Linked DNA regions of Homo sapiens. The protein of the gene in region 3 binds, or shares a complex with, the protein of the main gene of each other region. Each region holds a gene or a part of one and is shown on either strand. Other genes may lie near its edges. The genes, in order: MED25, MED16, MED19 and CCNC.

Region 1 (7,035 bases), on a different chromosome or scaffold from region 3:
ATCCCTGGTGCTAGCACAGCACCAGTCCCAGACAGGACAGGGGACATTTGCTGTCTGTGTTTTTTTTTTTTTTTGAGATGGAGTCTCGCTCTGTCGCCCAGGCTGGAATGCAGTGGCATGATCTCAGTTCACTGCAAGCTCCGCTTCCTGGGTTCATGCCATTCTCCTGCCTCAGTCTCCCGAGTAGCTGGGACTACAGGTGCCTGCCACCACACCTGGCTAATTTTTTGTATTTTTAGTAGAGACGGGATTTCACCATGTTAGCCAGGATGGTCTCCATCTCCTGACCTCATGATCCACTTGCCTCAGCCTCCCAAAGTGCTGGGATTGCAGGAGTGAGCCACCACACCCGGCCGACATTTGTTGTCTTTAATCATGAGGACTGGGAGGGAATGGGAAAGGGCTGGGGACCCCAAGCCTAGGATCCTGTGCTGACTCCAACCCTGGAGTGACTGACTCCATGCCCAGCCTCCTGCTGTCCCCTCCCCTCTCTGGGCTGTCTGCTCCAAATCAGTCCTGGCCCCACTTCACCTTCCCAGCCAGAGACGGGGGCCTCCTCTGTCCTCCTAGTCTTATGGGTTCAAGTGTGCCCCCTTCAAAAAGACAGGTTGAGGTCCTAAGCCCCAGTACCTCAGAAGGTGACCTAATTTGGAAAGATCTTTACACAGGTAATCGAGTTAAATTGCGGGCCCTAATCCACTATGGCTGGTGTCTGTGAAAAGGAGAAACGTGGACACGGACACACACACAGAGGGAAGACACAAGGACACAGAGAGACACAGGGAGAGGCCATGTGAGGACGGGTGATGCAGCCTCAGCAGGCACCAGGAAAGGCAGAAGGGCCCTTCCCCTGTAAGATTTCAGAGACAGCCTGGCCCTACCACCTGGATTTTGGACTTCCAGCCTCCAGAACCCTGAGACATCAATTTCCATTCTTCTGGCCAGTTTCTCATACTTTGCTACGGCAGCCTGGGAAACTAACACACACAGACTCTCGTTTCTCCTCCGCCTGATCTGCAGTCGCGTCGCAGCATCCGTCCCACATGGGTTGTGGCCCGGGGATGGCCTCTCCTCAAGGGCAGCTGTGGTTGCCACCATTATTCCGGTCACGTGGTCGTGAGAGGCTGACCTTTGCTGCAGGGGACGTGTGTGGAGACCGAGCACCCCTCTGAGGGTCTTGAGGGCCCTGTCCCCCTGAAGTGTGGTCTCTGATCCTACCTCTCCCACAGGCGGGGATGGGGTCTGAGTCCTCTCTTACCCCCAGGCTTGCCCACCACAGCGGGGCACATGTGAGGCCTCAGGAAATGTAGGCTAAGTGAATGAACGTCTACAGGCCCAACCGTGTCCATCAAGACTGGAACCAACCCAGGCCCTCGGCCCGGCATCGGCCCAGCATCCGAGGCCTCCGAGTCCTGCACCCCGTCCATCTCTCCTGCTCCATGCCCGCACCTATAGGTCCTCTCAACTGACAAAGCCCAGACATCCAGGTCTCTGCATGTGCTGGAACACACCCATTCCGGCCCGGATGGAATCCAGCTAAACTACGACACCCATCCTGGTGTGCCCTCCTATAGGAAGCCTTCCCTACATGCCACCTAATTTTACGGCCTGCCCTTAGTCACATCATAGATCACCCGATACTGCAGCTGTCAAGCTTCTCTCCGCACCCTGTGCAGCCCTCCAAGAGAGACACCAAGGCGTCTGACCCTAGGTCACACAAGGCCTAGGAACCATCTGCTGAGTACTCAGTGCACTGGTGGCCTGGCAGGGCCATGCAGCGGGGCTCTCCGCTTCCTGCCTGAGTTCTCGCACTGATTTCCTTCCAGTCCCACTCGGCCCGGCCAGTGAGCACACTGAGCCCCTGAGCCTTCTTCCTGCTCTCAGGGCACTCGGGCGCTGCTCCCAACCCACCACACACTTCCCAGCCCTCCTCTTCCTAGCCATCAAAACAGCTTTTGTTTTTGAGACGGAGTCTCGCTCTGTCTCCCAGGCTGGAGGGCAGAGGCACATCTCCGCTCACTGCAAGCTCCGCCTCCCGGATTCACGCCATTCTCCTGCCTCAGCCTCCCTCGTAGCTGGGACCACAGGTGCCCGCCACCACGCCCGGCTAATTTTTTTAATTTTTAAGTAGAGACGGGGTTTCACGGTGTTATCCGGGATGGTCTCGAACTCCTGACCTTATGATCCACCCGCCTCGGCCTCCCAAAGTGCTGGGATTACAGGCGTGAGCCACTGTGCCCGGCATCAAGACAGCTTTGCACGCAGAAACTTCAACTGTGTGCAAAGAGTTGGGGTGAACCAACTCTGGACCCAGCTGTTCTGCTACAGGTGAAATTAAGCCAATATTTTCCTGGGCCTTTCTGGGACTCGAGCCAAAACCACCCTGGCTGGGGATGGGGGGATGGGGGAATGGGGAGCTAGTGCTTCATGCATATGGGGTGTCCTCTTTGGGGTGATAAATTTTTTTTTTTGAGATGGAGTTTCGCTCTTGTTGCCCAGGCTGGAGTGCAATGGCACGATCTCAGCTCACCACTACCTTCGACTTCTGGGTTCAAGTGATTCTCCTGCCTCAGCCTCCCGAGTAGCTGGGATTACAGGCATGCGGCACCACGCCCAGCTAATTTTGTATTTTTAGTAGAGACAGGGTTTCTCCATGTTGGTCGGGCTGGTCTCGAACTCCCGACCTCAGGTGATCCGCCTCCTCACCCTCCCAAAGTGCTGGAATTACAGGCATGACCCTGTAAAACAGTTGGAAGTGACTGGGTGCAATGGCTTATGCCTGTAATCCCAGCACTTTGGGAGGCCGAGGTGGGCGGATCACTTGAGGTCAGGAGTTCAAGACCAACCTGGCCAAAGTGAAACCCTATCTCTACTAAAAATACAAAAACCAGCCAGACATGGTGGTGGGTACGTGTAATCCCAGCTACTCGGGAGGCTGAGGCAGGAGAATCACTTGAACCTCGGGGGCAGAGGTTGTAGTGAGCTGAGATCATGCCACTGCACTCCAGCCTGGGAGAGAGAGAGAGACTCCATCTCAAACAAAACAAAACAAAACAAAACCCTTATGAGGAAAAGTGTGATAAACTAACCAGTTTGAGATGCTAAAACTTGCGTTTCTCTTATTGAACACTAAGTACAAGTCATGTGCTACAAGCTCAAAGGGCGACATGTAATAAACATTTTGTCAAAGAAATGTGGAAAACTTGAACAGAAGAAGCACTATGGCTGGCTGCAAAATATGGCTAAAATATCAAGTTTATGATAAATTCCAAATAAACCCCTTGATATGGCAGACACAAAATAAAAATAAAAGCCCCCTAGGTGACACAAGTGGGCTCTGACTTGGTGTTCCCAAGTCCTCTAACTTACTCCCATTTGTTCTACCCAGTATCATTCCCCGGGGTCTCTGCTGCCCGCTTTCATCGGCTAACAGGTGCCTGGAGCCCCAGGAGGTCAAAATGAGTGAATGTTAACAGCATCCGGCCATGACCAAGGGCTCCCTACACACGGCCTGTCACCCAGGCAAACTAGTTCCATGAGGGCCAGGACCTTGCCTATCTCATGCCCACTAACTCCTTGGTGCCCAGGACGATTTGTTCCACAAACATTTGTTGAATTAATGAGTGAACATATGAATGAACAACTGAGTTGTCATAATGTTATGGGAAACACACTGGGTCTATTTTCCTTCCACCTCTTTTTTTTTTTTTTTTTTCCCGAGACAGGGTCTCGCTCTTTCACCCAGGCTGGAGTGCGGTGGCACAATCTCGGCTCACTGCAACCTCTGCCTCCCAGTCTCAGTTGATCCTCCTACCTCAGCCTCCTGAGTAGCTGGGACTACAGGTGTGCACCACCATGCCTGGTTAATTTTTTCTATTTATTTGTTGTTTTTGTATTACATACTAATTCATTTATTCAGCCAGTCTCCTGAAGCCCCGTGGGTGCCAAGCCCCAGCTGGAAGCAAATGGCAGAAGCACCCAGGGACCTGGACATTCACAGTCCAGAGGTGTGGGGCTGTGACAGGTCATGGAGGCAGAGGAGGAAGCATCTGGCTGCAAGAATCGGGAAGGTTTCCCAGGGTATAAGACACCTGAGCTGGGTCTGGAAGGCTATGCAGTGTCTTCCAGGGTGGTTAGTATTAAATGCATTCTGGACATTCATTCTACAGAATTTACCCGAGGCCTCCTGTGTACCAGGCCCTGTGCTGGCTGCCAGGCACTTGAGGAGCATCAGACTTGGACCTGGGCCTCAAGAAGTCTCCATTTAACATCACTCAAGACTGTCTTACCGGTCTCTCCCAGTGGTCTCAAATGGAATACATTTTGCGCCCCCTTCCCAGAGGATATTTTATAATGCCTGGAGACATTTTTGGTTGTCACACCTTTGGGAGGGGGCTACCGGCATCTAGTGAGTAGAGGCCAAGGATGATGTTAAACATCCTACAATACCCAGGACGGCCCCCACTACAAGGAATGACTGTGTCCACAGTGTCACTAGGGCCAAGGATGAGAAACCCTGCTCTGTGTTACCTACGAATTCCAGCTACCGCGAAGGGGAAGCTTCTGTGTCACCTTTTCACTATATGTCCTGCACCCAGCACTTGCACGCACATACTGGAACAAAGCAGATACTCAACAAACACCTGCTGCAGAAGCATACAGAGGTAACGGCCGCTACGAACAGGTGTTGTTTAATGAACCTTGACTGCAGACCAGGCCCTAAGCGACACACAGCAAGCAACTTAGCTCCTGTGATCTTCTAACAACACGGAGATACACGCGACCATTATCCATTTGCAAACCAGGAGAGTGAGGCACAAAATCCTAGGAAACACTTACACGGCACTTAATACATGCCAGGCACTGTATTAAACATCATCAACTAACTTAATTCTCCAAACATCGCTGTGAGGTTGCGGTACCCAGCCCCCAATACAGCACCCAGCAATCCAGCCTCTTGCTATTTACACACTGGGTAGTCTCCTCCTACACTGAACGGGATAGGCTTATACTGCACACCAAATGCAGTATGGCAGAAGTGGACTTGGCACCGCAGCTCAGGCCTGTGATCTCAGCACTCCAGCACTTAGGGAGGTCAAGGCAGGAGGATCGCTTGAGGCCAGGAGTTCAAGACCAGTCTGAGCAACACAGCAAGACCTCATCTCTACAAGAATTAAAATAAAGAAATCAGCCATGCATGGTGGTGCCCACCTGCAGTCCTAGGTACTCAGGAGGCTGAGGTGGGAGGATCACTTGAGCCCGAGAGGTCGAGGCTGCAGCAAGCTATGATCCCACCACTGCACTCCAATCTGGGCAACAGAGCAAGACCCTGTCTCAGGTTAAAAAACAGAATGTAGGCCAGGCGCGGTGGCTCACGCCTGTAATCCCAGCACTTTGGGAGGCCGAGGCGGGTGGATCACAAGGTCAGGAGACCGAGACCATCCCGGCTAACACAGTGAAACCCTGTCTCTACTAAAAATACAAAAAATTAGCTGGGTGTGGTGGCGGGCACCTGTAGTCCCAGCTACTCAGGAGGCTGAGGCAGGAGAATGGCGTGAACTCGGGAGGCGGAGCTTGCAGTGAGCTGAGATCGCACCACTGCACTTCAGCCTGGACAACAGAGCGAGACTCTGTCTCAAAAAAAAAAAAAAAAAAAAAAAAAGAATGTAACAGAAATAATGACATGACGTGTAACTTCCAAGACTTGATTACAAAGAGCCTAGTGGGGCCTCTGGGTGCAGCATCTCATGCCTCTAATCCCAGCACTTAGGGACACTGAAGTGGAGGATCACTTGAGACCAGGAGTTCAAAACCAGCCTGGGCAACATTGCAGGACCTTGTCTCCACAAAAAAAACAATTTTTTTTTGAGACAGGGTCTCAGTCAGTCAGTCACCCAAGCTGGAGCGCAGTGGTGCGATCTCTCCACCTCCTGGCTTGAAGTGATTCTCCTGCCTCAGCCTCCTGAGTAGCTAGGATTACAAGGCACATGCCACCACACCTGATTAATTTTTGTATGGTTTTTTTTTTTTTTTTTTTTTTGAGACAGAGTCTTGCTCTGTTGCCCAGGCTGGAGTGCAGTGGTGCAATCTTGGCTCACTGCAAACTCCGCCTCCTGGGTTCACGCCATTCTCCTGCCTCAGCCTCCCGAGTAGCTGGGACTGCAGGTGCCTGCCACCGCGCCCGGTTAAATTTTTGTATTTTTAGTAGAGACGGGGTTTCACCGTGTTAGCCAGGATGGTCTCCATCTCCTGACCTCATCATCCACCCGCCTCAGCCTCCCAAAGTGCTGGGATTACAGGCGTGAGCCACCACGCCTGCCCAATTTTTGTATTTTTTGTAGAGACGGGGTTTCACCATGTTGGCCAGGCTGGTCTCGAACTCCTGACCTCAGGTGATTCGCCCGCCTTGGCCTCCCAAAGTGCTGGGATTACAGGGATGAGCCACCGTGCCCCGCCACTACAAAATTTTTTTTTTTTTTTTTTTTTGAGACAGAATTTCACTCTTGTTGCCCAGGCTGGAGTGCAATGGTGTGATCTCGGCTCACTGCAACCTCCACCTCCCAGGTTCAAGCAATTCTCCTGCCTCAGCCTCCCAAGAGCTGGGATTACAGGCATGCGCCACCATGCCCAGCTAAGGCCTGTAATTTCAGCACTCCAGCACTTAGGGAGGTCAAGGCAGGATGATTGCTTGTATTTTTAGTAGAGGCAGGGTTTCACCATGTTGGACAGGCTGGTCTCGAACTCCTGACCTCAGGTGATCCACCTGCCCCAGCCTCCCAAAGTGCTGGGATTACAGGCGTGAGCCACCACGCCCGACCTACAAAAATATTTTTAAGAAATCAGCCAGGTGTGCTGGCATTTGGCTACCGTCCCTGCTACTCCAGCTACTCGGGAAGCTGAGATGGGAGGATCGCTTGAGCTTGAGCCCAGGAGGTCGAGGCTGCAGTGAGCCGTGACTGAGCCACTGCACTCCAGCCTGCGTGACAGAGTGAGACCCTTCCTCAAAAACAAGAGAGGCCTGGGGCTTCCTCTTTG
Region 2 (7,035 bases), on a different chromosome or scaffold from region 3:
GAGGCTTAGAGACCCAGTAAAGGGGACGGGGCCCACACAGGGACGAGGGTCGGTCCGCCACGTGCCCGGGGAGCCTGAGGTGCAGGGAAGGTGCTTGTGACGCTCCCATTTGAGGCTGGACAGAAGCAGGTACATGGGGACTTCCACACCACCTCTGCCCAGACACCCGGCCTGGAGGTGCCGGGACCTCTGAACGACAAGATTCTGGTGGCAAAAGCTGCCCTCGGTGGTGGGTGGGGGACCTGGGTCTGGGTGGGGGTGGGCCGGCTTATTCTGCTCTCATTAAATATCTGAAATTTTCCCAGTTTACAAGCCTCTGACGTAACCGTCCTCTCTTTCCATCAAGTCTTTTCCTGAAACCCAAACCCTCGTGTGTGACTCATTAGGAGGCCCCTCCCACAGTGAGCACGAGGAAGAAAATGCTGGAGGTCCTAGAGCCAAGCCAGGGCGCCTTCCCGGAGGTCCCGGAGCCAAGCCGGGGGTGCCTTCCCTGGAGGTCCTGGAGCCGAGCCGGGGCCTTCCCCGGAGCAGGGCTGCTGGAGGTTCACTTCATTTTCTTCCTTTTGCTCATCTGTGTTTTCTAAAATTCCAGCCCTGAGCAATCAGTGGCTCAGAGGGTTTGCATGTGCTCCTTGTCAAACGTGTGTCTGAAACAGGCTGGGGGTCTGACGGGCCTGGGTTCAAATCCTGACTCGGCCACTTCCTGACCGCGTGACCCCAGATGAGTGGGGTGACAAGGTCCCACCCTTTCCAGGCTGGGTTTCCTCACCGTGAAATGGGGTGACAAGGTCCCACCTCACAGGGCTGCTGGGCAGCCAGGGTCAGCTCAGCACACTTGGGTTGCCCAAACCCCGCACATTCCAGAGAAAGGCCAGCCCCGGGCCCTGCAAGGTGACCTCTTGCCCCCGGGAGATCCTCCTGATGAGGTGTCTGCTCAGCAGGGCCCTGGGCCATATGCTAAGGCGTCTCTCTCCATCCACAGAGGGATCTACGGCGAGGCCTGACATCCAGGGGGGCCAGAGACTAAGGGCAGAGGCTAAGGCAGGGCGCCCTGTACAGCGAGGCCAACACACAATCAGGAAACACCAAGGCAAGGCCGGGGCGGTGGCTCACACCTGTAATCCCAGCACTTTGGGAGGGCGAGGCAGGTGGATCACCTGAGGTCAGGAGTTCAAGACCAGCCTGGCCAACATTGCAAAACCGCCTCTATACCAAAAATACAAAAAATACCTAGGTGTGGTGGCTCATGCCTGTAATCCCAGCTACTGGGAAGGCTGAGGTAGGAGAATCATTTGAACCCGAGAGGCAGACGTTGCAGTGGGCCAAGACGGCACTACTGCACTCCAGCCTGGGCAACAGAGTGAGACCCTGTCGGGGAGACAAAAAAAAAAAAAAAAAGGGAGAGGGTGAATGGAAGGGCTGGGTGCCCGTGTTGGGGGTGGTTCGTGACACAGCAGAAGACACCACTAGGGGATGGAGTTAGGGGCACCTAGAAGGAAGCAGCAGTCATGGCCATGACTGGAGAACATGGAGGGAAGGAGCCGTATGGATTCGGGGGGGTCCTGGGGCAGGACATGGAGGGAGGGAGCCGTGTGGATTCGGGGGGACCCGGGGCAGGACATGGAGGGAGGGAGCCGTGTGGATTCGGGGGGTCCCGGGGCAGGACATGGAGGGAGGGAGCCGTGTGGATTCGGGGGGTCCCGGGCAGGACATGGAGGCGGGGAGCCGTGTGGATTCGGGGGGACCTGGGGCAGGACATGCAGGGAGGGAGCCGTGTGGATTCGGGGGTCCCGGGGCAGGACACGGAGGAAGGAGTCCTGTGTTTGGGGACCAATGCAGGGACACACGCACCTGGCGAGGCCGTCGAGCTGCAGGGTGGCAGCACTGCCAGGCAGCGTGGGCGCCCGGCCAAACTGCAGACGAAGGGGCTGCTTGGGCTGCAGGCGGCTAACCAGGCCGTCGCTGGCTGGCAGCCAGTCCAGGCTGGGGATAAGCAGCTGGCTGGGCAGCAGGCAGCATTCATCCACCAGCGCCTCGTCCGGCTCGCTCGCTGGGCCCTCATCGCGACCTGCGGAGAGAGGTGGCGGAAGTCTCAGCACCCCTGACTGGGGCACCGCCCGGCCACCCGGGACGTGCTGGGAGCCCCTCCAGTTCAGGAGCACCAGGTCAGGGCCCCAGCTCTGTCTGCCTGGCTGGGTGACCCCGGGGTTCTCTCACCAGGTCGGGGCCCCGGCTCTGCCTGCCTGGCTGGGTGACCCCAGAGTTCTCTCCCCGTCTCTGGCCTGTCATGAGACTCCCTCATTCACTTAAAAAGTATGTGGGAAGCACTGTGCCTTTTCCAGACACTGGGATGTAAGAATGACACAGCTCACCCTCCTCACATACACACAACCCGACAAGGAGAGACAGCAAACAGGTGCCTGGAAGTGGCTGCCATCCCAAAAGCACCCACACAGAGCATGGACCTGTGCTAGGAACTGGGGAAATAGCAGATATCAAGGCAGAGCCACTGCCACCTGCAGGGGCTTATGTTCTGGCGGGGGGCTCAGGCAGGACTTGTGTTTTGGTAGGGAGAGGGGAGCGGGGAGAGGGGAGAGGGGAGAGCGGGGAGAAGGGAGAGCGGGGAGAGGGGAGAGCGGGGAGAGGGGAGAGCGGGGAGAGGGGAGAGCGGGGAGCGGGGAGCGGGGAGAGGGGAGAGCGGGGAGCGGGGAGAGGGGAGGGGCGGGCGGGGGTGCCTCACAGCAGATCCAGAGCTTGGTGAGCAGGCGGAAGAGCAGGGACATGCTGTCCTGGGTATCCGAGGTGGCCGTATACACGGGCAGGCAGCTGGGCTTCAGAAGGCCCCAGATGCGGATGACCACCATCAATTCCCGAAGCATGCCCAGCGAGGTGCCGTCCCGCAGAAAGCTGTGGCCCGGCCTCAGCAGGGAACCCTGCCCGAAAGAGGCATCGGTGTGGCTGGGGCGGCGGGGGGCAGATGGCGATGGGATGAAGTGTCTTGGGGTCGGTGGAACCCCGACCGGGGGGCAATGGGCAGGGTCTGGGACATTTGTGGTGGTCAGGACTGGGGTGCTTCTGGCACCGAGTGGGTGGATGCCGGGGACGCTGCTCAGAGCCCTGCAGGGCCCAGGACAGCCCCATTTGCAGAGTCGTCCCATCCCTGAGAGTCCACAAGACTAAGACGAGGCTCTGGCTGAGGCCAATATCCCCACCTGCACGTGGAGGAGCAGCCGCCCCCTCCTACAGCTGCGGGCCCGGGCCCCTGGTGACTGTACTGGGAGCTGAGAGGACCAGGGAAGGGAGGCCCCAGGGGTGGCCCCTGGCAGCCTAAAGCCCCACAAAAAGAAGAGAGGGACTTCAAACCGTCCGTGATGGGCGCGGTGGAGAAGGGCGGGCCCCAGGGCAGGATGAAGCCGGGTGGGTGGGGCAGAAGAAATCACAGCTGGGGCAGGACAGAGTGTACCGGCGGGGGGGTGGGGGCGAGGTTGGAGCCCTGGTCAGGGGCGCACAAGCCGCAGAACTGAAGGTGGAGGTGTGGATGGAGACTTGATTTCAAGGCCGCCCACCCCAGGCGCAGGGAGCTGGGGAGGGTAAGGGGTGGGGGCAGCAGCAGCAGAAGCAAGGCGAACCGGCCTTCGTGTAGGGGTGGGGCTGAGAAGGAGCAGGGCCTGGGAGGCGGGGCTTTGAGAATGGGCAGGAAGGGTGTGGCCAAGGAAAGGCTTCTTACAGCAGAGGCTTCATGGAGAGGAGGGCTCCGAGGTGGGGGAGGGCTCCGAGGTGGGGCAGGGCTCCGAGGTGGGGGAGGGCTCCGAGGTGGGGGAGGGCTCCGAGGTGGGGCAGGGCTCCGAGGTGGGGCAGGGCTCCGAGGTGGGGCAGGGCTCCGAGGTGGGGGAGGGCTCCGAGGTGGGGGAGGGCTCCGAGGTGGGGCAGGGCTCCGAGATGGGGCAGGGCTCCGAGGTGGGGCAGGGCTAGGAAGTGGGGCAGGGCTAGGAAGTGGGGCAGGGCTAGGAAGTGGGGGTTTAAGAAGAGACAGACTCAGGAAGTGGGACTCCAAGTAGGGGTGGGACTCCAACCAGGGGCGGGGCTGAGGTGGGACTCCAAGCAGGGGCGGGACTCCAAGTAGGGGCGGGACTCCAAGTAGGGGCGGGACTCCAACTAGGGGCGGGGCTGAGGTGGTTTTGAGGGGCAGGGGCAGGGAAGCGGGGTCCTGATGAGATGGGGGCCCAGGTGGGGGGCGGGGCCTTAGGGGAGAGCATGGCGCACCTGGTTGGGTAGGCTGGCCAGCAGGTACAGCACGAAGTCGCCCACCCACTGCAAGAGCTGCTGCAGCGCCTGCAGTGTGTTCATGTCCAGCACAAATTCCTCCGTCTTGAGGTTGATCATGACCTTGTCAATGTCTACAAGGAGACGTGGGTCGGGTCAGCTCGGGCCTCTTGTACACACAGGGTGACCTAACTGCACCCCTCGGTCCTTCGACCTGCACTGAGTGCCCACCCAGTACCAGGACACAAGGGGACCCACACCGGGAACGAGAAGGGGGCGATGGCGTTGCCGGACGGAGAGGAACTGGGAGCCCACTGCCTGCCCCCCCCCGGGGGCCGCTGTGCTCAGCACCAACCAGCTTCTCTCGGCCTGCAGGCCTTGGCGTGGGCAGGTCCCCATGCCAGGGCCACCAGTGCTCAGGCCCGGCCTGCTGGTGCACATCTGCCCCCTGCTCCGAGGTGAACTCTGTGAACACAGGGGCATGTCCACAGCGTGCAGCTGCAGCCACCCCCGGCTGGCAGCTGGCGGCGGTTACACACCCAACAGATGCCTCTCGGATGGTGACTAGGGTGGTCCCACAGAACTAACCATGACTGTGCACACGGCTCCCAGCTACCAGGAGTGCCACGTGTCCACACTCAACCGGGTACTCCAGACAAACGATAACCCTAAATTTTTTTTTTGAGACAGAGTCTCACTCTGTCGCCCAGGCTGGAGTGCAGTGGGGTGATCTCAGCTCACTGCAAGCTCCGCCTCCCGGGTTCACGCCATTCTCCTGCCTCAGCCTCCCGAGTAGCTGGGACTACAGGCGCCCGCCACCACGCCCGGCTGATTTTTGTATTTTTAGTAGAGACGGGGTTTCACCGTGTTAGCCAGGATGATCTCGATCTCCTGACCTCGTGATCAGCCCGCGTTGGCCTCCCAAAGTGCTGGGATTACACACGAGTCGCCACGCCCAGCAACCCTAATTTTTAAAAGAAACAGCCTGCCAGGCACAGTGGCTCACGCCTGTAATCCCAGCGCTTTGGGAGGCAGAGGCGAGTAGGACACCACGTGCTGGGTGAGCCTGGGCAAGCTGCTTAGCCTTTCTGCCTCAGTCCCCTTACGGCAAAACGGAAGGAGGAGCAGACCTGCCTGCACAGGACCCGGGTGCCGGGTGTCGGCCTGGGAGCGTCTCAGCCCCCAGGAGTAGAGAGAGGTGAAAGGATCGCTTGAGCTCAGGTGGTCAAGACCAGCCTGGGCAACACAGTGAGACCCTGTTGCTACAAAAAATTAAAAACCGGGTGTGGTGGCACGTGTCTGTAATCCCAGCTACTCCAGAGGCTGAGGCGAGATTGCTTGAGCCCAGAAGGCAGAGGCTGCGCTGAGCTGGGACTGCGTCACCGTGCTGCAACCTGGATGACACAGTGAGACCGTCTCTAAAAGCCTGGGTGTGGTGTAATCCCAGCCTTTAGGCTATATCCCAGCACTTTAGGAGGCCGAGGCGGGCGGATCATTTGAGGTCAAGAGTTCGAGACCAGCCTGGCCAACATGGTGAAACCCCGTCTCTACTAAAAATACAAAAAATCAGCCGGGCGTGGTGGCACGTGCCTGTAATCCCAGCTACTTGGGAGGCTGAGGCAGGAGAATCACTTGAACCAGAGAGGCGGAGGCTGCAGTGAGCTGAGATCGCACCACTGCACTCCAGCCTGGGCAACAGAGTAAGACCCTATCTCAAAAGAGTAAAAAAAATAAATAAAAATAAAATAAATAGATGAAAGAAACCTCGAGGCCCCGGGCGTGGAAAAGGACCCACCGACGTCGGTGATCTTGGTGCAGATCTCGGTCAGCCGGTCGCCGGGGCTCTTGTCAGGCGTGTTGAGAAAGTGGGGGCGCAGCAGCGACTTCAGGGTGGAGCTGATGGCGATGAGGAAGAGCTTGGTGTGGTAGTCGCACACGCGGGTCACCGTGCAGGGCGACAGCTTGCAGAGCGAGGCCTTCATGGCCAGGATCCGGGTGGAGAGGACCTGAGGGCAGGAAGCCAGGTCACCCCAAGGGGCCGGAGCAGAGGCGCCCGCCAAGGCTCCAGCTGAGGAGAAGAGCAGTTCGACTCTGACACCAGGCGCTCGGTCAGCTGGGCAAGCTGCTTCGCCTCTGCACCTCAGCAACCTCATGGCAAAACAGGTGCGGAAGACCAGGCGCACAGGACCAGGTGCTGGGTTCTCAGCTGGGAGCGGCTCTGCCTCTGGTGGGGGCCCCTGGTGATGTCTGGAGATATTTTTAGTTGTCACCACTGGGGGTGCCCCTGCCAAGTAACGGGTGGAGGCTGGGGAGGCTGCTCAACAGGACACCCCCATCCCAGAGGCTGCTCCAGCCCCCGATGTCTGTGGTGCCTACGGGGAGACCCTGGTCTAGAGAGAATGAATGAATGAGCTGAAGCATTTTGGGAGGCTGAGGCTGGAGGATTCCTGGAGGCTGGGAGTTGGAGAGCCTGTGCAACGTAGGACACCCCATCTCTACAAAAAATAGAAACAACTAAAAACAAAAATGAAACGCTTGGCACACAGCGACGGCCCAAGGAGGGAGAGGGCGAGGTCTCGCCATCACTAGCGCTGTCACTGGCTACGGATCCCAGCCACGCTGGGGTTTAGCCTCGCAGCCCCCGCCTGGGTCTCACGCGTTTCTCGGCAGGCTGTGCCGTGAATGGGATTTTTTTTTTCCCATTTTATCTTCGTATTGGTTTCTGATGGCACAGAGGAAAACAAGTGAAGCTCAGAGGGCTGGTCCCACGTG
Region 3 (7,870 bases):
AGATCTGCCTGACCAACAGGGAGAAACCCTGTCTCCACTAAAAATAAAAAATTAGCTGGGTGTGGTGGCACATGCCTGTAATCCGAACTACTCGGGAGGCTGAGGCAGGAGAATCGCTTGAACCTGGGAGGCGGAGGTTGTGGTGAGCTGAGATTGTGCCATTGCACTCCAGCCTGGGCAACAAGAGCAAAACTCTGTTTAAAAAAAAAAAAAAAAGAGGCATCTTGGAGACCAAACATGTCCAAAATAACTCTTGATTTCCACCTCTTCAAACTTGTTCCTTCCTCATCTTCCAAGTCTCCGTACCCATACACCCAATTATTCAAGCCGAAAACTTAAAAAGGCATCAATTCCTCTATTTCCTTCACTTCTATATACAATATATATTTTTAATTGAGACAGGGTCTTCCTCTATCATCCAAGCTGGAGTGCAGTGGCACAATCATGGCTCACTGCAGCCTCAACTTCCTGGGCTCAAGTGATTTCTACCACCTCATCTTCCTAGGTAGCTGAGACTACAGGTGCATGCTGCTATCCCTAGCTAATTTATTTTTATTTTTTGTAGAGATGGGGTCTCATTATGTTGCCCAGGCTGGTCTCAAACTTTTGGGCTCAAGCAATCCTCCCACCTCAGCCTCCCAAAGTGCTGGGATTACTGGCGTGAGCCACAGCGCCTGGCCCTGTATTCAATTTTTCAACCCTGTCAGCTCTACCTCTAACATCCTGTATCCATTTACTTCTCTATGCCCTGCTATGCTCTGGTTCAAACCATTATCTTTCCTGGACTACTGAGCAGTAACTTCTGACTAATTTCCCCACTTTCTATTTGTCATGTGGCTGCTTAAATGATTATAAACAAGTGCATTTGACCAACTTCCTATGTTAAAATGGCTTTCCTTGGCTGGGCACAGTGGCTCAGACCTATAATCCTAGCACTTTGGGAGGCCAAGGCGGGAGGACTGCTGTTGGCCAGGAGTTCAAGACCAGCTTGCGCAACACAGTAAGACCCAGTCTCTACAAAAAAATTTTAAGTTAGCCAACTGTGGTGGTGCATGCCTGTAGTCCTAGCTACTTGGAAGGCTGAGGTGGGACGACAGCATGAGCCTAGGAACTGGAGGTTACAGTGAGCTATGATTATACCACTGCAGTCCAGCCTGGGTGACACAGTGAGACCTTGTGTCTATAAAAAAATTTTTTAAATGGCTTCCTTTTGTATTTACAATCTAAATGCCTTTACTGCTTTATAAAAGCCTCTGCCTAACTCTCCCAGCTTCATCTCTCTCCCTAACACTCTTTCCTTTTGTTCACTTCACTGGAGTCCAACTGATTTTCTGTCCCTCAGATATTCTAAGCTTTTTCTCACATCAGGGTTTCTGACCTCATTTCTTGTATCTACAATTGTCTCTCCCTCCTGTCCATACATGGCTGGCCCTTTGTCTATGCTTACATTTTAGTTCAAATGTTAGCTATGTGAAGAGAGCATCTCTGGCCACTCTAGCTAAAGTAGTTCTGCCCCTCAATTTTTTTTTTTTAAGAGACAGGGTCTCATCTGTTGCCCAGGCTGGAGTGCAGTGGCACAATCTTGGTTCACTGCAGCCTCGACCTCCTGTGTTCAAGCGATTCTCCTCCCTTAGCCTCCTGAGTAGCTGGGGCTACAGGCATGCATTACCACGCCCGGTTAATCTTGTATATTTTGTAGAGACTGGGTCTCGCCATGTTGCCCATGCTGGTCTCAAACTCCTGGGCTCAAGGGATTCTGCCTCGGCCTCCCAAAGCGCTGGGATTACAGGCGTGAGCAACGCGCCTGGCCACCTTCAATTTTTATCATGTTTTCTTTTCCTAGCATTAACCACTTTCTGACATTATCTTGTTTACAATGCCTCCTCCACTGAAATGTACATCCCAAAAAAGGCAAGCATCTTGTCAGTCTTGTTCACAACTGTCTCCAGCATTTAGAAAAGTGCTTGGTACATAGGTACTCAACAAAATAATTTTTTGAATGAAGAGTTTGGTTCGATTCTTATCCCTTTTTTGATCAGACCAGGAAATGCCGGAACCTTAGAAGGAAGAATGGCAACTTGCCCCAAACCAATAGCAAGTCTGTGGGAGACCTGTAACTAAAACTTTGGGTCCCCAAAGATATTAAATCAGGCCTCTCGAGTTCCAAACTCAAACCCTGGATTTTGTTTGTTTTGAGACGGAGTCTCGTTCGCCCAGGCTGGAGTGCAGTGGAGCAATGTCGGCTCTCTGCAACCTCCGCCTCCCGGGGTTCAAACGATTCTCCCGCCTCAGCCTCCCGAGTAGCTGGAATTAAAGGTATACGCCACCACGCCCAGGTAATTTTTGTGTTTTTTGTGGAGACAGGGTTTCATCATGTTGGCCAGGCCGGTCTCGAACTCCTGACCTTAGGTGATTCGCCCGCCTCCGCCTCCCAGAGTGTTGGGATTACAGGCGTGAGCCACCGCGCCCAGCCCTAGGTCATTTTTTAGAGAGACATAAACCAGTGTCAGGGACACAGCCTGGACATGGTGCAAAAGACAGTAACGGAGATGCACTACGCCCCTGCCCGCCATTCATCCCTTTGGTTGAATTCAACTCATCCTGGTTGAATTCAAGTCATCCCTCTGCTTGTGAATCCTAACAGCGCTTCCGACTTAGGGCTCCACAGTCCGGGTATGCGTTGCCTAGGTTACCTCGCACCTCCGCTAGCCGGCTGAGAGCCACGCCCATCACCTCCTCTCTAAGATTTGATTGGCTGGCTTTGGCAAGGCCGAGTACTCACCTGGCAGTTCCCTCATGAGGTAAAAAGGGCCACAGCCAGCTCCTGACTTGTCCGCGCCAGGAGGAGCCGTGGCCGCGGTGGGAGGCGGGGCCGTGCCGGGTCCCCCGCCCGCAGGAGGCGGTGGCGGGGGTGGAGGCTTTCCTGGTCCGAAGCCGAGTGCGGTTGGGGGCGGTGGTGGGTCAGCCTGAGCCCCAAACAGTGCCGTGAAATTCTCCATCGTACCCTCCGCCCCGGCGCTGTCTCCGTGTCTGCCGTTGGTAATTTTCATTGGACAATGCTTTCAAGGAGTACCCCCCCGCCCTTTCTCAAGGAGCCGCTTGTCATTGGATGCCTCAGGCACCGCCTACCTTTTTTCAACAACTACTTCCGTCGCCTTATGAGAACGTTCAGGAAGTGCTATTTAACCTTATTAGAGTCTTCTGCTAGCTCTGCTTGCTACAGTCCAATAAAATGACTTAGGCGGATAAAGCGACAACTAGACTAACCAATAAAATATTAAGTTCTTTTTTGGGTTCTGACCTACCACAGCGTTCAGAGAACTACATCCGGGTTTAGAGGCCGTACGTTTGCGATATAGCCCAATAGCAGTCGTTATGGTGGGGGAGGCGGGGCGAGACCTACGACGCCGGCGAGCAGTGGCCGTTACGGCCGAAAAGATGGCGGTCTTGGCACCTCTAATTGCTCTCGTGTATTCGGTGCCGCGACTTTCACGATGGCTCGCCCAACCTTACTACCTTCTGTCGGCCCTGCTCTCTGCTGCCTTCCTACTCGTGAGGAAACTGCCGCCGCTCTGCCACGGTCTGCCCACCCAACGCGAAGACGGTAACCCGTGTGACTTTGACTGGGTGAGCCTCCCGCGTGTTAGTACCCCGCGACCTTGACTGTCCCTGCCCTTGCAGGTGTATCTGGGAACCCTGGGGTTTACCTCTCTGAGGACACCTGAGGTTCCGAGCCTGTAGCGGACTTAGAGACTATTAAGTGCAGGGTCCGAACCATCATCGAGTCTAAACTTTGTGTTTAAGATGGGAAAACGGAACATGTTAGTCGTAGCCCATGCACAACGGCCCAACAGCTTTTGACTGTTGAGTCCAGGTTTCTTTCTGTTTCACCATTGAGACTAATTAACAGCCCTATCAAAACTGTACATACACGTGTATAACGTTTTACAGTGCCGCTCATTATGTAAAGCCTCCTGAGGAGCCAGTAAGGTAGACAAGGCAAGTAGTAATATTCCTGTTTCATTGGTGAAGAAATGGATCTCGGTATATTTAGGTGACTTGCCCCAGGTCATACAACTAATGAGTGCCTGGGACTTGAAACTACTCTTCTGGCCACACTACCTGCACAACACTGTCAGCCGCTTCTTAATTCAATAAACATTTCTAGAGTGTACACTCTAGGCACTCTGCTTGATCCTGAAGATGCGAAAGTGGATAAAATTTGGGGGCTACTGTAAAGGAATTGTAAAAAATACGTTGTAAAGAAATCTTTGGGATTTCTTTGGGAAGTGTCCCAAGCTCCTTGCTGTGCTTCCTTGGTATGGGTGGAGGGACTGCTCGGAACATAAACTTAAAGCACTTTCCCTTCTGCCATATAGCATGTAGGGGCCAAGGAAAAGCTTCCCCTTTGCTCTCTGAGGGTTTGTTGAAAAATCAACCGACAAAGGGCACATTAATAGGAGAAAGGCATAGAAATTTTATTTTAACGTGCATAGCATGAGGGAATTGCAGGAGAATGACCCAGTGGGGTACAGATGCTTATATACCCTCTTTCATAGGAATATGGGAGATGGGAAAATGTGGGTGATTTTAAGGTGGATCGTAAATGATTTTTAGGGTGATTCAGTGGCCTGGAGAACATACAGTGGCCTGGGACAATGACTGTTGGGCCTGCAGAGCAGACAATGGTTTCTGACAAAAATCTGTCCAGGTGTGTTGACAGGCTTCCATCTTTCTTCTTGTACTGAAGTAAGTTAATGAAAACTCAGGGAAGAGACCAGAAGTAATTGTTGTCTTCTTTGACAGGTCTGGACTTTAGGCAGATAAGGTAGTTATCAGAGTAAAGCTGCTTCCAGTATCTGCTGGTTTCCAGGGACCTTTAATTTAAAATGATTAGCATACAGGATGCCATATTTTGGGGTGTGAGTCCCTGGTCTTCTTTATTTCCTTTGTCTGAAACTTCCTTAGAAGTTTCACTATAAGCTGAGTTGGTGTCTGTGGAGAGAGAAATCGGGCTAGTAATTGAGCGGCAAAGGATCCCATTAAACCAGCCTCTCATTTTGGGGGATAGTCCAGTTCAATTAAATTGTTGTGTCTCATTTCAGAAGATGGCATTGTAGATGAGTTCTCAAAGCTAGGCCTCTGTATATGATGTAGGCAAACAGGTATTTAATAAGAGAGACATTTCTATGGAACAAGACAAACAAAGCTTAATATCTGGTATAGTCTATAAACTAGTTTCTTTAGAGTCTGGAGGGCAGTCAATTGGGAAGATTAATAGCAATCTATTTTCCTAGATTGTAGGTTGTGTGTAAAGTTTGTCCAAATATAAGCTTTTGTGGTGATTTTTTTTTCAAAGTCACGTTGACTAGCTTTAGCTGGTAAGGCCTTAGGAAAAAGGCAGGGTTTTTAGTTTTTTGGATTTTTTTTTGAGACAAGGTCTTGCTCTGTCATCCAAGCTGGAGTGCAGTGATGTGATCATGGCTCACTGTAGTCTTAACCTCCTGGGCAAAGCCATCCTGCCACCTCAGCTTTCCAGGTAGCTGGAACCAAAGGCATGCACTACACACCTGGCTAATTTTTAAAAATTTTTTTTCAAGGTGGGGTCTCTTGATGTTGCCCAGGCTGGTCTTGAACTCCTGAGCTCAAGGGATCCTCCTGACTTGGCTTCCTAAGGAGCTGGGATTTACAGGTGTGAGCCACTGCGCCAAGCTAAAAAAGGCCGTTTTAATTTTTAGTGATTCTAAGTCAGAAGAGTGGGTGAAAAATGGAAAACATTAGTCTGGAGGTTAGCAATTTTATGAGTCCAGTTTTATTTTCATTAGACTTTGGAAATTTTTACCCAGTCCGGTGATACAGTTTCAAAGTTATCAGAAACCTTTATTTGTCAGCATTCTTCCCATGCTTTCCATGATCCTCCTTGAAAATAAGACACTTGGCCAGGCATGGTGGCTCACATCTGTAATCCCAGCACTTTGGGAGGCTGAGGCGGGTGGATTTCCTGAGCTCAGGAGTTCGAGACCAGCCTGGCCAACATGGTGTAACCCCGTCTCTACTAAAAATACAAAAAATTAGCTGGGTGTGGTGGTGGGTGCCTGTAATCCCAGCTACTCTGGAGGCTAAGGCAGGAGAATCACTTGAACCTGAGAGGCAGAGGTTGCAGTGAGCCAGGATCGTGCCATTGCACTCCAGCCTGGGCAACAAGAGCAAAGTTCTGTCTCAAAATAAATAAATAAATAAAATTAAAAAAATATATTTTATATATAATATATATGTATTAATGTGCTTTTAATACTAAAGCTGATTTTAATAAACTTTACAAACAAATCTGTCTAATCTTGATCAGCTTTGACTAGACAAGATAAAATTTCCATAAACCTTTTATAACCTCTTAGAATTTGTTTTCTTTTTTTTTTCTTTTATTGATCATTCTTGGGTGTTTCTCGCAGAGGGGGACTTGGCAGGGTCATAGGACAATAGTGGAGGGAAGGTTGGCAGATAAACAAGTGAACAAAGGTCTCTGGTTTTCCTAGGCAGAGGACCCTGCCGCCTTCCGCAGTGTTTGTGTCCCTGGGTACTTGAGATTAGGGAGTGGTGATGATTCTTAACGAGCATGCTGCCTTCAAGCATCTGTTTAACAAAGCACATCTTGCACCGCCCTTAATCCATTTAACCCTGAGTGGACACAGCACATGTTTCAGAGAGCACAGGGTTGGGGGTAAGGTCACCGATCAACAGGATCCCAAGGCAGAAGAATTTATCTTAGTACAGAACAAAATGAAAAGTTTCCCGTGTCTACTTCTTTCTACACAGACACGGCAACCATCCGATTTTTCAATCTTTTCCCCACCTTTCCCCCCTTTCTATTCCACAAAACCGCCATTGTCATCCCGGCCCGTTCTCAATGAGCTGTTGGGTACACCTCCCAGACGGGGTGGTGGCTGGGCAGAGGGGCTCCTCACTTCCTAGTAGGGGTGGCCGGGCAGAGGCGCCCCTCACCTCCCGGACCGGGCGGCTGGCCGGGCGGGGGGCTGACCCTCCCACCTCCCTCCTGGACGGGGCGGATGGCCGGGCGGGGGGCTGACCCCCCCCCACCTCCCTCCCGGATGTGGGGCTGACCCCCCCACCTCCCTCCCGGACGGGGCGGCTGGCCGGGCGGGGGGCTGACCCCCACACCTCCCTCCCGGACGGGGCGGCTGGCCGGGCGAGGGGCTGACCCCCCCACCTCCCTCCCGGACGGGGCGGCTGGCCGGGCGGGGGGCTGACCCCCCCACCTCCCTCCCGGACGGGGCGGCTGGCCGGGCTGAGGGGCTCCTCACTTCCCAGTAGGGGCGGCCGGGCAGAGGCGCCCCTCACCTCCCGGACGGGGCGGCTGGCCGGGCGGGGGGCTGACCCCACCTCCCTCCCGGACGGGGCGGCTGGCCGGGTGGGGGGCTGACCCCCCCACCTCCCTCCCGGACGGGGCGGCTGGCCGAGCGGGGGGCTGACCCCCCCACCTCCCTCCCGGACGGGGCGGCAGGCCGGGTGGGGGGCTGACTCCCCCACCTCCCTCCCGGACGGGGTGGCTGGCCAGGCAGAGGGGCTCCTCACTTCCCAGTAGGGGCGGCTGGGCAGAGGCGCCCCTCACCTCCCGGACGGGGCGGCTGGCCGGGCGGGGGGCTGACCCCCCCCACCTCCCTCCTGGACGGGGCGGCTGCCGGGCGGAGACGCTCCTCATTTCCCAGACGGGGTTGGTGCCGGGCAGAGGGGCTCCTCACTTCTCAGATGGGGCGGATGCTGGGCGGAGGGTCTCCTCACTTCTCAGACGGGGCGGCTGGGCAGAGACACTCCTCACCTCCCAGACGGGGTCGCGGCCGGGCAGAGGCGCTCC
Region 4 (2,809 bases), on a different chromosome or scaffold from region 3:
TCAATGAATGATCTGATATTGTAAAGATAAAGAATTTTGGTTTTTAAGTGACCCTAAGGTCCATGGCACATAAGAATATATTTTTGCTAAAAATGAATCACCTGTGCTAAGAGGGTTTTTTTTGTTGTTATTGGGGTGTATGTGTGTGTTTTAAGTAAGATGTGTTCATTTAGTTCAGTGGTTCTCAGCCCTCACTGTGTATCAGTTCATTTGGGGCAGGGAGAAAAAGTCAGAAGGGAAATAAAGAAATGCCATCCATCTTAATTGTTTCTTTAGAAAAATGATTGTTATATAACAAGATAGATTTATGGATTGCTACTCATAAGTTAATGTTACAATTTGGAAAAAGTTAATACTTTATTCAAGGAGCTGTTTAAGGCAGTCATTCAAACAGCTACCTTTGGATGCATTTTTTGCAGAAATTCCCTGAGTGATTCTCCACTAGTGGCAGGGCCTGAAGCTGCAAGATGATGGTGGACAAGATAAGGCAATAATCCTATTGCCAAAGTTACTGGTATTTTCAGTTTTAGTTATTTTTAAGTATTCAGCATTTTTATTTTAAGTATTCAGCATTTTCCAGGAAATTACCATATTTCTTGCTGACTTATAAAGGTTTGCTGTATTTATATATGATTTTATTATGCCTTTGGACAACAGTTTTGGTTTTTTTTTTTTTTTGAAGAACACTTCTTGTTTTTCATAAATAGTAGGAATAGGATTTTATATGTAAGATTTAATTTTATAGGAAATTTGTTTAGAAGAAGCTGTAATCTCTATGTTGAGTGATACCTGTAATAACAATGAAATCCCATACCCTAATTTAAAGTTTTTGAGTATATATGGACACTAACTTCCAGAATGCTTGTTATATGTGAGGGCACAAAGTTATATAAGAATAAAAACATAAAACCAATGTTTGTTAGTCTTCTGGATTTTAATTTTTCACGTGTCTTATAATGAGGAATGTCTTTGTTTTGTATAGTTGTGCCACAGAATAATGAATTTAAAAGTCAGTAGGCTTATCAGGGTGTAAAAATGGATCTTTTAATTGGTATAAAATCTCTTTCTTCCCCATTTGAACAGTGAAGGAGAGCAGGGTCCAAATGGAAGTCAGAACTCTAGCTACAGCCAATCTTAAAACATTCCGAAGAATTCCATAGTGGACCACTTGGAAATAAACCATTGGACAGATTTCAGTAATGTCTTCAGTGGAACACAAATGAAAATGAATAGCTTGTTTCTGTCAAGCATATTGGAAAGTGATTTTATTTTTGCAAAATAAGTTTTTCTTTAATATGATTCTAGTACATAATTGATTAAAATCTCTTGATTATAAATGTTTGGAAAGGTTCTAAGGGGACCTACAGACAGACATACATAGACATTTCAAAATTAATAGCTTTTGATTAGTATAATATTTCTTAATTTGGATAATAAAAATTGTAGCTTTTTATTAAGCCAGGAAACATGAAGCATAATTTGTTTAAAATTCTCTTTGGTCATTGAGGGACCAAAAAAGGACGTAAAATTTACAGTCAATCTATGAGGGTTTTTTTCCCTCCATAAGTTTAACTTTAAAACTGTATTTAAGGAATCAAATCTTACAAAATCCTGGAAGATTTTGGTAATGATGTTGATAATTTCAGGGAAATTAATCAAGTACCTATATTGATTTAAAAGTGTATTTTATTCAGTAGTTTGAGGATCTTGCCATGGAAGATACTAGCCCAGCCTAGCAGAAAAGTGCAATATGTATAGCATACTTTGACATTTTAAACATGATAGTCCATAACCATTTTGAAATGCTGGGCAAACTACATGAAGTTATTTATAATTAATTCACAGCTAATCAGGCATTTTGAAAGCTTAATTGGATTCAAAAACCATAATGTTGGAATTTGGTAAAATTTTAATGTTGATTTTTACTGTGAAAAGGTTTTTATAAGATATACACACCCTAGTTTAATGTTGTGTCTTGGTGTGGATTTACAGATTTACTACAGGTATTCTGAACCAGGAACACAATCAGGTTTCAGGCCAGTTTGATACTGGCTGTCCTTAATTCTAATATGAGAGTAGGACATCATACTAAATGTTATGTCAGTGGGACTGTACTGTCTGTGGAACTTAGCAAATTAATCATTTTCTTCAGACTTGAAGGAGAGTGATAAATAAAATTTGGAGTCATAGGATATTGATGCACAATTTAAGGATTAAACATTTTTAATCAATTGTGGATGATGGCTTATTAAATGTTGACTTCCTAGTATAAAACTGCAAGAATAAAAGTAACTTCTCCAGCTGTATCGACTAGTGTCTTGAATTTATCTTTTTGAATTTGCCTGATGTTGTTTTTTGAGAATTCTTCTTCCTTTAGTTAAGTGTTAAAGCCTTTTATAGGTTGTCAAGGGGGTAATTTCAAATCATTACAAACAGATTTTAAATAGAAAATTTATTTCTGATGGAGCGTATCAAATGAGCTGGAAAGCGAGACTGTGTAAAGTCAGACTGATGACATATATAGGTTTCCTGGGCTTAATAAGAAAAAAAGCTCTCCTCAGGTCTGAAGGAATTAATGTTGGGCTTAGGTAAGACCTATAGTCTTTAAGTGTTTATTTTTAAAATTAATACCATGCCTCATAGTTTTGTTTTCAGTCTCTTATTGTGGAAGATTTAAAACAACATATACAGGAGTAAAGTAAGGAACCTCCATGTACCTATCATCTAGCTTCAGTAGTTATCAATTTATGGCCAATTTCATTTCATCTAAACTCCCACCCACTTTCCGTAAGTTGCCATCCCCCATCTT

The links.
Region 1: MED19 (region 3) and MED25 share a complex: the UniProt entries of both Homo sapiens proteins name them as parts of the mediator complex.
Region 2: MED19 (region 3) and MED16 share a complex: the UniProt entries of both Homo sapiens proteins name them as parts of the mediator complex.
Region 4: MED19 (region 3) and CCNC share a complex: the UniProt entries of both Homo sapiens proteins name them as parts of the mediator complex.

What each region holds. Positions count from the first base shown.
Region 1 is NC_000019.10:49,821,268-49,828,302, reverse strand, and holds part of MED25 (mediator of RNA polymerase II transcription subunit 25), read right to left. Parts: intron 1-7,035. UniProt on the Homo sapiens protein: Component of the Mediator complex, a coactivator involved in the regulated transcription of nearly all RNA polymerase II-dependent genes.
Region 2 is NC_000019.10:869,186-876,220, forward strand, and holds part of MED16 (mediator of RNA polymerase II transcription subunit 16), read right to left. Parts: intron 6,270-7,035; coding exon 6,059-6,269; intron 4,398-6,058; coding exon 4,264-4,397; intron 2,934-4,263; coding exon 2,741-2,933; intron 2,069-2,740; coding exon 1,852-2,068; intron 1-1,851. UniProt on the Homo sapiens protein: Component of the Mediator complex, a coactivator involved in the regulated transcription of nearly all RNA polymerase II-dependent genes.
Region 3 is NC_000011.10:57,709,181-57,717,050, forward strand, and holds the start of MED19 (mediator of RNA polymerase II transcription subunit 19), read right to left. Parts: upstream 3,036-7,870; 5' UTR 3,000-3,035; coding exon 2,783-2,999; intron 1-2,782. Other genes in the region: TMX2 (thioredoxin-related transmembrane protein 2), read left to right, coding at 3,439-3,627. UniProt on the Homo sapiens protein: Component of the Mediator complex, a coactivator involved in the regulated transcription of nearly all RNA polymerase II-dependent genes.
Region 4 is NC_000006.12:99,541,884-99,544,692, reverse strand, and holds the end of CCNC (cyclin-C), read left to right. Parts: intron 1-419; coding exon of another isoform or gene 420-471; exon of another isoform or gene 472-913; intron 914-1,083; coding exon 1,084-1,138; 3' UTR 1,139-2,306; downstream 2,307-2,809. UniProt on the Homo sapiens protein: Component of the Mediator complex, a coactivator involved in regulated gene transcription of nearly all RNA polymerase II-dependent genes.